2 separate regions of the Homo sapiens genome follow, and region 1 is linked to region 2. Evidence: fine-mapped expression QTL. A gene starts in region 2. The other region holds a variant in brackets. All regions are shown on one strand. Distances are from middle to middle.

What was found. PIP is the estimated chance that this variant, and not a neighbour inherited with it, causes the effect.
Region 1: its variant is the best candidate, but not a certain one, in a credible set for the expression of LRWD1 in whole blood (INTERVAL, PIP 0.59).

Annotation. Positions count from the first base shown.
Region 1 is chr7:102,341,290-102,345,801 of GRCh38, forward strand. It overlaps SPDYE6 (speedy/RINGO cell cycle regulator family member E6), which reads right to left. Exons shown (of 8, transcript NM_001146210.4): 8 at 4,457-4,512. Among named protein-coding and RNA genes, the nearest start is that of SPDYE6, 13 kb to the right of the region's middle. The variant G/A (reference allele first, on the strand shown) is at 1,897.
Region 2 is chr7:102,462,508-102,466,761 of GRCh38, forward strand. LRWD1 (leucine rich repeats and WD repeat domain containing 1) reads left to right here and starts at 2,477. Exons shown (of 15, transcript NM_152892.3): 1 at 2,477-2,653; 2 at 3,310-3,544; 3 at 3,647-3,763. The coding sequence starts at 2,574. ALKBH4 (alkB homolog 4, lysine demethylase) reads right to left here and starts at 2,356. Exons shown (of 3, transcript NM_017621.4): 1 at 2,207-2,356. The coding sequence starts at 2,329. It overlaps MIR5090 (microRNA 5090), which reads left to right and starts at 3,235; the gene lies at 3,235-3,319. RefSeq lists enhancers at 2,099-2,748, 2,878-3,404, 3,028-3,127, 3,405-3,930 and a silencer at 2,258-2,687.

The DNA.
Region 1 (4,512 bases), 120 kb before region 2:
TGCCAACACCTTCCACTCCTCATTCTTGAGGGATTAGGGATGGAGGTCATGCTTCTGCTTCGACTTCATGCTGAGCAGGGCACTGAGTCCCCTAAAGTGAAAGGAATGAAACTCCTGGGCTTCTGAGTTCAAATGAGTTCTGGGGTCACCCGGAGTAGCTTGAAAGGCTGGTATTGTTGTAATACAAGCTGAAGGTGGAAGTGTTGGATCCTGGAGAACAAACAGCTCACCATCCATTTAAATAAATAGGACCAAAAAGTAACAGAACAGTGGCCACGAGGGGCCCCAACAGAGGAAGAAACCAGGTGAGGTGCGGTATAGTGGACTCGACTGCCTTCTAAATCTCAGTTGTTGGCTGGGTGCGGTGGCTCACACCTGTAATTCCAGCAAAAGAAAAGCCGAGGCAGGGTGATCACGAGGTCAGGAGTTCAAGACCAGCCTGGCAAACATGGTGAAGCCCTGTCTCTACTAAAAATACAAAAATTAGCTAGGCATGGTGGCATGTGCTGTAGTCCCAGCTACTCGGGAGGCTGAGGCAGGAGAATCGCTTGAACCCGGGAGGCGGAGGTTGCAGTGAGCCGAGATTGTGCCACTGCACTCCAGCCTAGGTAACAGAGCAGGACTCCATCTCAGTCAATCAATCAATCAATCAATCTCAGCGGTTGAACTACCCTTGACATGGTTCAGCTCTGTATCCACACCCAAATCTCATGTCAAATTGTAATTCCCAGTGTTGTGGGAGGGACCTGGTGGGAGGTGATTGGCTCATGGGGGCCGACTTCCCCCTTGCTGTTCTCGTGATATTGAGTGAGCGCTTGTGGGATCTGGTTGTTTAAAAGCGTGCAGCCCTCCCACTTCACTCTCTCTGTCTCTCCTGCTCCAACATGGCCAGACGTGCCTGCTTCCCCTTCGCCTTCTGCCGTGATTGTCAGTTTCCTGAGGCCTCCCCAGCCACGCTTCCTGTACAGCCTGCAGAACTGTGAGTCAATTAAACCTCTTTTCTTCATAAATTACCCAGTTTCTCATAGTTCTTTATAGCAGTGTGAAAACAGACTAATGGACCCTTCTGGTTGAAGGAATGCAGCCATTCTGCTTGTTTGACTATGTCCTTTCTATTCATCTCTATTTCCTGGGAGGTGTTTATCCAAGTGCAATAGGAGGTATTGGTGACTGCACAGTCCCCTCAGTGTTCTGCTAGTAAATAGTTGAAGGTTGATCATTGATCTCCTGCGTTTTCAGTCTGGCATGGAAAAGCCCCCATGCAACTGGTAGTAAAGATATCAATAAGCACCAGGAGGTATCTAAATCCACCAGGAGCCATAGGCATCACGTTGACGTCCATTTACCAGTCTTCCCTGGCAAGATTCTTCTGAATTGTGCTGCCTTGGCCAAAAGAGGTGTGGGAGGGGCTGGGCGCAGTGGCTTGTGCCTGTAATCCCAACATTTTGGGAAACCAATTCAGGTGGATCATTAGAGGTCAGGGGTTCAAGACCATCCTGGCCAACATGGTGACATCCCATCTCTACTAAAAATACAATAAGTTAGCTGGGTTTGGTGTTGGGTGCCTGTAATCCCAGCTACTCGAGAGGCTGAGGCAGGATAATCGCTTGAACCTGGGAGGAGGAGGTGGCAGTGAGCTGAGATCGTGCCATTGCACTCCAGCGTGGGCAACAAGAGTGAAACGTCGTCTCAAAAAATAAAAAAAAAAGTCCGGGCGTGATGGCTCACACCTGTAATCCCAGCACTTTGAGAGGCCAAGACGGGTGGATCACGAGGTCAGGAGTTCAAGACCAGCCTGGCCTAGATGGTGAAACCCTGTCTCTACTAAAAATACAAATATTAGCTGGGCATGGTGGCATGCACCTGTAATCTCAGCTACTCAGAAGTCTGATGCAG[G/A]AGAATTGCTAAAACCCAGGAGGGGGAGGTTATATTGAGCTGAGATTGCACCACTGCACTCTAGCCTGGGCGACAGAGCAAGACTCCGTCTCGAAAGAAAGAAAGAGAAAGGAAATTCCCCAGGGAAGTACCTCGGCTGATTTCATAAACAGGTACCGAAGGAAGCAGAGGCATGTGGAGGACTTCCCCACCTCGTGCAGCTATTTGGGCCGTGGCGTCTGAAATTTATTATTTCAGAGTCACCCCTTTGATGACCTTGGCAGTGAACTGCAGTCATCTGTTTAGGCCTTTCCATGGCCCACGTCAATGCCGTTATTTCTGTTTGTTGCACATTTGATTTCCTTGTTGTTGGCATTTAGAAGGCCCCCTGCTTCCCAGATCACACCACGGGCATGGACCACAGAGATTGCATCTTGTGAGTCTGTAGAAATGGTCAAGGCCTTGTCCTCTCTTAGGTCCAGAGCTCAGGTGAATGCAGATTTTCCCGGCCATCTGTGCTGAAGTCCCTGTGGGGAGGCTCCTGGCTGGTTTCCTGTAGGTAGACAGCTACACGTCCTGCCCTTCATTGGCTTCTTTTCATGAAGCTCCTGCCATCTACAAAACATGTCTCCCTTCTTGAATCACTTCTCTGTTATTGAAACTCTAGAAGTCAACCGGGCATGGTGGCTATGCCTATAATCCCAGCATTTTGGGATGCCAAGGCGGGTGGATCACCTGAGGTCAGGAGTTCAAGACCAGCCTGGCCAACATGGCGAAACCCCGTCTCTAATACAAATACAAAAATTAGCCAAGCATGGTGGCCACTGTACTCCAGCCTGGGCGACAGAGCAAGACTCTGTCTCGAAAAAAAAAAAAAAAAAAAAAAGAGAAAGAAAGTATCATGCTTTTCTGCATTCTGTGAATTGTTTTAGTGAGTTATCGAACTTGAGGGCATGGTGGGAACCTCCAAATTTGCAGCCAGTTGGTGAGAAGTACATGTGGTCTGAGGACACCCAAGCCTGCAGGTGTGTCTAAAGCGAGGGCAGCCTAGTAGGGGCTGGTGGCCTTAACCTGTGGCATTTGAGGTAACATCAGGGAGTTGACATCAGAATTGCATCACATAGGCTGGGCGCGGTGGCTCACACCTGTAATCCTAGCACTTTGGGAGGCCAAGGCGGGCAGATCACGAGGTCAGGAGATCGAGACCATCCTGGCTAAGACAGTGAAATCCCGTCTCTACTAAAAATACAAAAAATTAGCCAGGCATGGTGGCGGGCGCCTGTAGTCCCAGCTACTTGGGAGGCTGAGGCAGGAGAATGGCGTGAACCCAGGAGGCGGAGCTTGCATTGAGCCAAGATCACGCCACCGCACTCCAGCCTGGGTGACAGAGCGAGACTCCATCCCCCCCCCAAAAAAAAAAAGACCAAAAACAGAATTGTGTCTCAGGCCAGATGCAGTGGCTCATGCTTATAATCCCAGCAATTTGAAAGGCAAGGTAAGAAGATCGCTTGAGCTTGAGTCTGAGGCCGCAGTGAGCTATGACCACACCACTGCACCCCAGTCTGGGTGACAGCGCAAGACCCCAACTCCAAAAAGGAAAAAGAAAAATCACAAAGAATTGCATGTCAGAGTGCCTGTCTTTCACAGCTTTAACTGCTGCAGGAACGAACTTTTTTTTTTTTTTTTTTTTTGAGAGGGTGTGAGGAGACACAATCTCTGCTAGTGATTCTCCTGCCTCAGCCTCCCAAATAGCTGGGATTATAGGCGTGCACCACCACGCCTGCCTAATTTTTGTATTTTTAGTAGAGACAGGGTTTCACCATGTTGGCCAGGCTGGTCTCAAACTCCTGCTGGGATCATGGGCGTGAGCCACCACGCCCGGCCACCTTTAGAGTTTTCTTACCACCTGGTTTTCCTCTCTCAATATCTTTCTCTCATTTCCTGCCTTAAAACTCTAGCTTGGCATCTGGGCGCAGTAGCTCATGCCTGTAATCCCAGCACTTTGGGAGGCCGAGGTAGGTGGATCACTTGAAGTCAGGAGTTCGAGACCAGCCTGGCCAACATGGTGAAACCTTGTCTCTACTATTTTTACAAAAGTTAGTCGGACGTACAGACGGGTGCCTGTAGTCCCAGCTACTTGGGAGGCTGAGGCAGGAGAATTTGTTTGAACCCAGAGGTGAAAGTTGCAGGGAGCCGAGGTTGTGCCACTGCACTCCAGCCTGGGAGACAGAGCAAGACTCTGTCTCCAAAACAAACAAACAAACAAAAAAACCCTGTAGCTTGGGATCAGCCTTCTCTTCTATTGTTTTTCTTTAAAAAATAAAAATTAAAAATAGATGTAGATGCTATGTTGCTGAGGCTGGCCTCAAACTCCTGGCCTCAGGTGATCCTCCCACCATGACCTCCAAAACCGCAGGGATTGTAGGTGTGAGCACTGCACCCAGCCTTATGTTTTTTTCTACATAAAAAACAGCACAGGATTATCTTCCAGAGCTAATAAATATGTTCAAATAACCACAACCCCATTAAGGAAAAATATCACTGGGCAGCAAATAATCAATCCAGACCAATATGATCACAATTGCTGTGAAGGTGAGAAAAGTTCATTTTTATTATGTTTCCCCAAGAGACCCACTC
Region 2 (4,254 bases):
CAAGCACACACCACCACACCTAGCTAATTTTTAAATTTTTTGTAGAGACAGGGTCTTGCTATGTTGTCCAAGCTGGTCTCAAACTCCTAGACTCAGGCGAGCCTCCTGCCTCAGCCTCCCAAAGGGCTGGGATTATAGGCATGAGCCACCGCACCTGGCCCCTTCCACAAATTAAAACTCTTAAGTTCATTCATATTGTTGTACAGCCGTCACCACCATTCAGAACTTTTTCATCTTGCAAAACTGAAACTCTTTCCCTATTAAACAACAGGTCCCCATCTCCCCTTCCTGAGCCCTTGGCAACAACCCTTCTACTTTCTGTCCCTGTGACTACCCTACGTAGCTCACACAACAGGAATCATGCAGTATTTGTCTTCTGTGACTGCTTCCTTAACTTAGCATCGTGTCCCCAAGGTTCGTCCATGCTGTAACATATGTCAAAATGTCCTTTTTTTTTTTTTTTTTTTTGAGACAGGGTCTCACTATGTTGCCCAAGCTGGAGTGCAGTGGCGTGATCACAGCTCACTGCAGCCTTGACCTCCCAGGCTCAAGCAACCCTCCCACCTCAGCCTCCTGGGTAGCTGGGACTACAGGTACGTGTCACCATGTATGGTTAATTTTTTTGTAGAGGTGGGATTTCACCATGTTGCCCATGCTGGTCTCAAACTCCTGGGCTCTGGCAATCTGCCTGCCTCGGTCTCCCAAAGTGCTGGAATTACAGGTGTGAGCCACTGTGCCCGGCCTGTCCTTCCTTTTTAAGGCTGAATAGTATTCTACTATGTGTATGCACCACATTTTGTGGATCAAGTCATCTCTTTTTTTTTTTTTTTTTTTTTTTTTGAGAAGGAGTCTTGCTCTGTCACCTGAGCTGGAGTGCAGTGGTGCGATCTTGGCTCACTGCAACCTCTGCCTCCTGGGTTCAAGCGATTCTCCTGCCTCAGCCTCCCGAGTAGCTGGGATTACAGATGTGCCTCACCAAGCCCGGCAAGTTTTTGTAATTTTAGTAGAGGCAGGGTTTCGCCATGTTAGCCAGGCAGGTCTCAAACTCCTGACCTCAGGTGATCTGCCCACCTCAGCCTCCCAAAGTGCTGGGATTACAGGCGTGAGCCACTGAACCCGGCCCAGGTATCTTGATAGATGCTTGGTTTGCTTCCATCTTTGGGCTGTCATGAATAATGTCGTGAATATGAACATGGGTGTGCAAATATCTCTTCCAGACCCTGCTTTTAGTTCCTTTGGATATATACCCAGAAGCAGGATTGCGGATCATGGGTAATTCTATGTTTAATTCATGAGGCATGCCATGCTGTTTCCATAGGACCTTGGGCACTTTTACCATGGACGTTGGGGCAGTCTTCACTGGCTTACCAGCCTCCACACCTTCATATCTGCCCGTTCCCTTCCCAGGATCTTTCTAAAATTCACATTTGACTTCATCACTCCTTTAAAACCCTTCAAGAGCTCTCCAGGGCCTTTGGGACAAGTCCAGCCTGCTCAGCTGATGCACCGGGGAGCATCTGTGATCAGACCTCCCCCCCCCCACAACCTCTCCAGCCTCATCTCTCTCACCTGAGGCATCACCAATCCACCTTCCTACCCCACGCAGTTTTCTGGGTTGGAATGCCCTTGCAACCAACCACAGTCCTTCCATGCCAGCCCAAAGGCGCTGAGTTCTTTTTCTTTTTTTATTTATTTTCTTTTTGTGAGACAGAGTCTCGCTCTGTCGCCCAGGCTGAAGTGAGGTGGCTCGATCATAGCTCACTGCAGCCTCCAGCTCCTGGGTTGCAGCGATCCTTGAGTTCCTTTTCGTTAGTTAACTGGAATTCACTGTCTCCTTGCCCATTGCAGTCCACGGCCTTCAGGCACCGTTGGACTGGTATTCAGCACCCTCGATCGACCCTTTCCGTGTCATCTCCCTGCAGGCCCGTGAAGCTCCCAGCGCCAGACCCGAGAGGCTACGTCGAGGTTTACAGGCAGATCCCCCCAGAGTCCCCGAGGTGACCTGTAATCGAACCCACCCACGTTCCAGCTCCTTCCCCACTCCCAAGCCCGCTCCTTAAAGCCCTCATCTCCTCACCCTGCATCACCCCTACCGTAAGGGTCCCTCACAGGCTTCGATCCCGGCCCCTATCATGGCCAAGCTGGACCTCAGTTTCCCCAGATGCAGAGCGACGTTTGTGGGCGCGGCCCCTCTCCCACCCCTTACCGCTGGGGGCAGCTCCCAGGGCGGGTCACTGCCGCGCTGCCGCTCGCAGATCAGACAGGTCCGGATGCCCTTGCAACCGCATTCCCGAAGGACTTCGGGGGTCTCGGCGGCAGCCGCCGCCATCGCGCCGTCCGCGTGGCCAGTGCGCAGGCGCGGCCGTGGGGGCCGCTGGGAGTTGTAGTCCGCGCCGGGCGGGGGCACGAGGCCTGGGTTCCGCTTCCTTCCGGTCGTTAACGCCCACGGGCTCGCGCGGCGCCGCCTCCTGGGCTCAGTTACCGCGGACGCCAGTGCCGGGCTCCAGGAGACGCAGGGCGACGCCACACGCCGGGGTGGCCGACTGGGTCAGCGCGGGCTGCGCCTCCTCGCCATGGGCCCCCTCTCGGCGCGGCTGCTAATGCAGCGCGGGCGCCCCAAGAGCGACCGGCTGGGGAAGATCCGGAGTCTGGAGTAAGAGCCGGGCAGCGGGTGAGGCTGTGTCCTCGGGGCCGGGCGGTCGGGGAGAAGAGCGGGGACCCTCCCCAACGGCCCGCTTGTCCCCGTTATCGCCCTCTGGGTTCGGCAGAGTGGTCCAAATGTCTTCTTGTTGGGAGATCGTGGCCCCACCCGCTCGCCGGGAGCCCCGAGGGGCCTCATCCCCTGAAGGGAGCCCGGACAGTTAGGGGCACAGCCTGCCGCTATCGTTAGAGGGCCTGGGAAGCACAGACGAGCCCCCGAAGGATCAGGAAGAGCATCCTAGAGGGGGCTAGGATGCCCCCGAGTCCTAAAGTAGTTGCAGCTTTTTTTTTTTTTTTTTTTTTTTTTTTTTTTTTTTTGTTAAGTGGTGTGGAGTCGGGAGTAGTGGCGCGCGCTTCTAGTCCCAGCTACTCGAGAGGCTGAGGCGGGAGGATCCCTCAGCCCAGGAGTTGGAGGCAGCTGTGAGCTATGATCGCGCCTAGGCGACTGAGTGACACCCCGTCTCTAAAAATAAAGTAACGGGGGGATGGGCGGGGCGGCTACACTTGTACGAGAAATGTCAGGTGAAAAAGCCTTCTGAGGTACCCGGGGCAGATTGGTGTAGGGTGCAAAGCCTGCCCGCCCCCTAAGCCTTCTGCCCCCAACTCCAGCCTGTCAGGATTGGAGCTGCTTTCCGAGCACCTGGACCCCAAACTCCTGTGCCGCCTGACGCAGCTGCAGGAGCTTGACCTGTCTAACAACCACCTGGAGACGCTGCCGGACAACCTGGGCCTGTCCCACCTGCGTGTCCTCCGCTGCGCCAACAACCAGCTGGGGGATGTTACTGCCTTGTGCCAGTTCCCCAAGCTCGAGGAACTCAGCCTGGAGGGCAACCCCTTCCTGACGGTAAGTGGGAGCCTCCCACCAGCTTCATACCTGGGGCCAGGACTCTGTTGGGCTCAGGCTCAGCATCTCCTGAGCCACTGCTCTTCACCCTCTCTTCCCCAGGTCAATGACAACCTGAAAGTCTCCTTTCTCCTGCCCACGCTCCGTAAGGTCAATGGCAAGGATGCGTCCTCAACTTACTCTCAGGTGGAGAACCTGAATCGGGAGCTGACCAGCAGGGTAAGGGGATGAGAGGATTATTGTGTGCTTAGGAGCTGTGGGGGCATTGGGAGAATGATAGAATTGGACATCAGGAGGATGTTGAGGAGGGTGACTGATAGAGGCTCTTTGCCCCAACAGCCCCTAGCCTGATGTGCTACTTTATTTATTTATTTATTTTTTGAGATGGAGTCTCACTCCGTCGCCCAGGCTGGAGTGCAGTGATGCGATCTTGGCTCATTGCAACCTCTGCCTCCCAGGTTCAAGTGATTTTCCTGCCTCAGCCTCCCGAGTAACTAGGATTACAAGCACCTGCCACCATGCCCAGCTAATTTTTTTTGTATTTTTAGTAGAGACAGGGTTTCACCATGTTGGCCAGGCTGGCCTCAAACTCCTGGCCTTAGGTGATCTGCCCGCCTTGGCCTCCCAAAGTGTCGGGATTACAGGTATGAGTCACCACACCCGGCCTGACTCTTCTAAGTAGCTTTTTCTGGGGTGTTTCTTTTTTACCT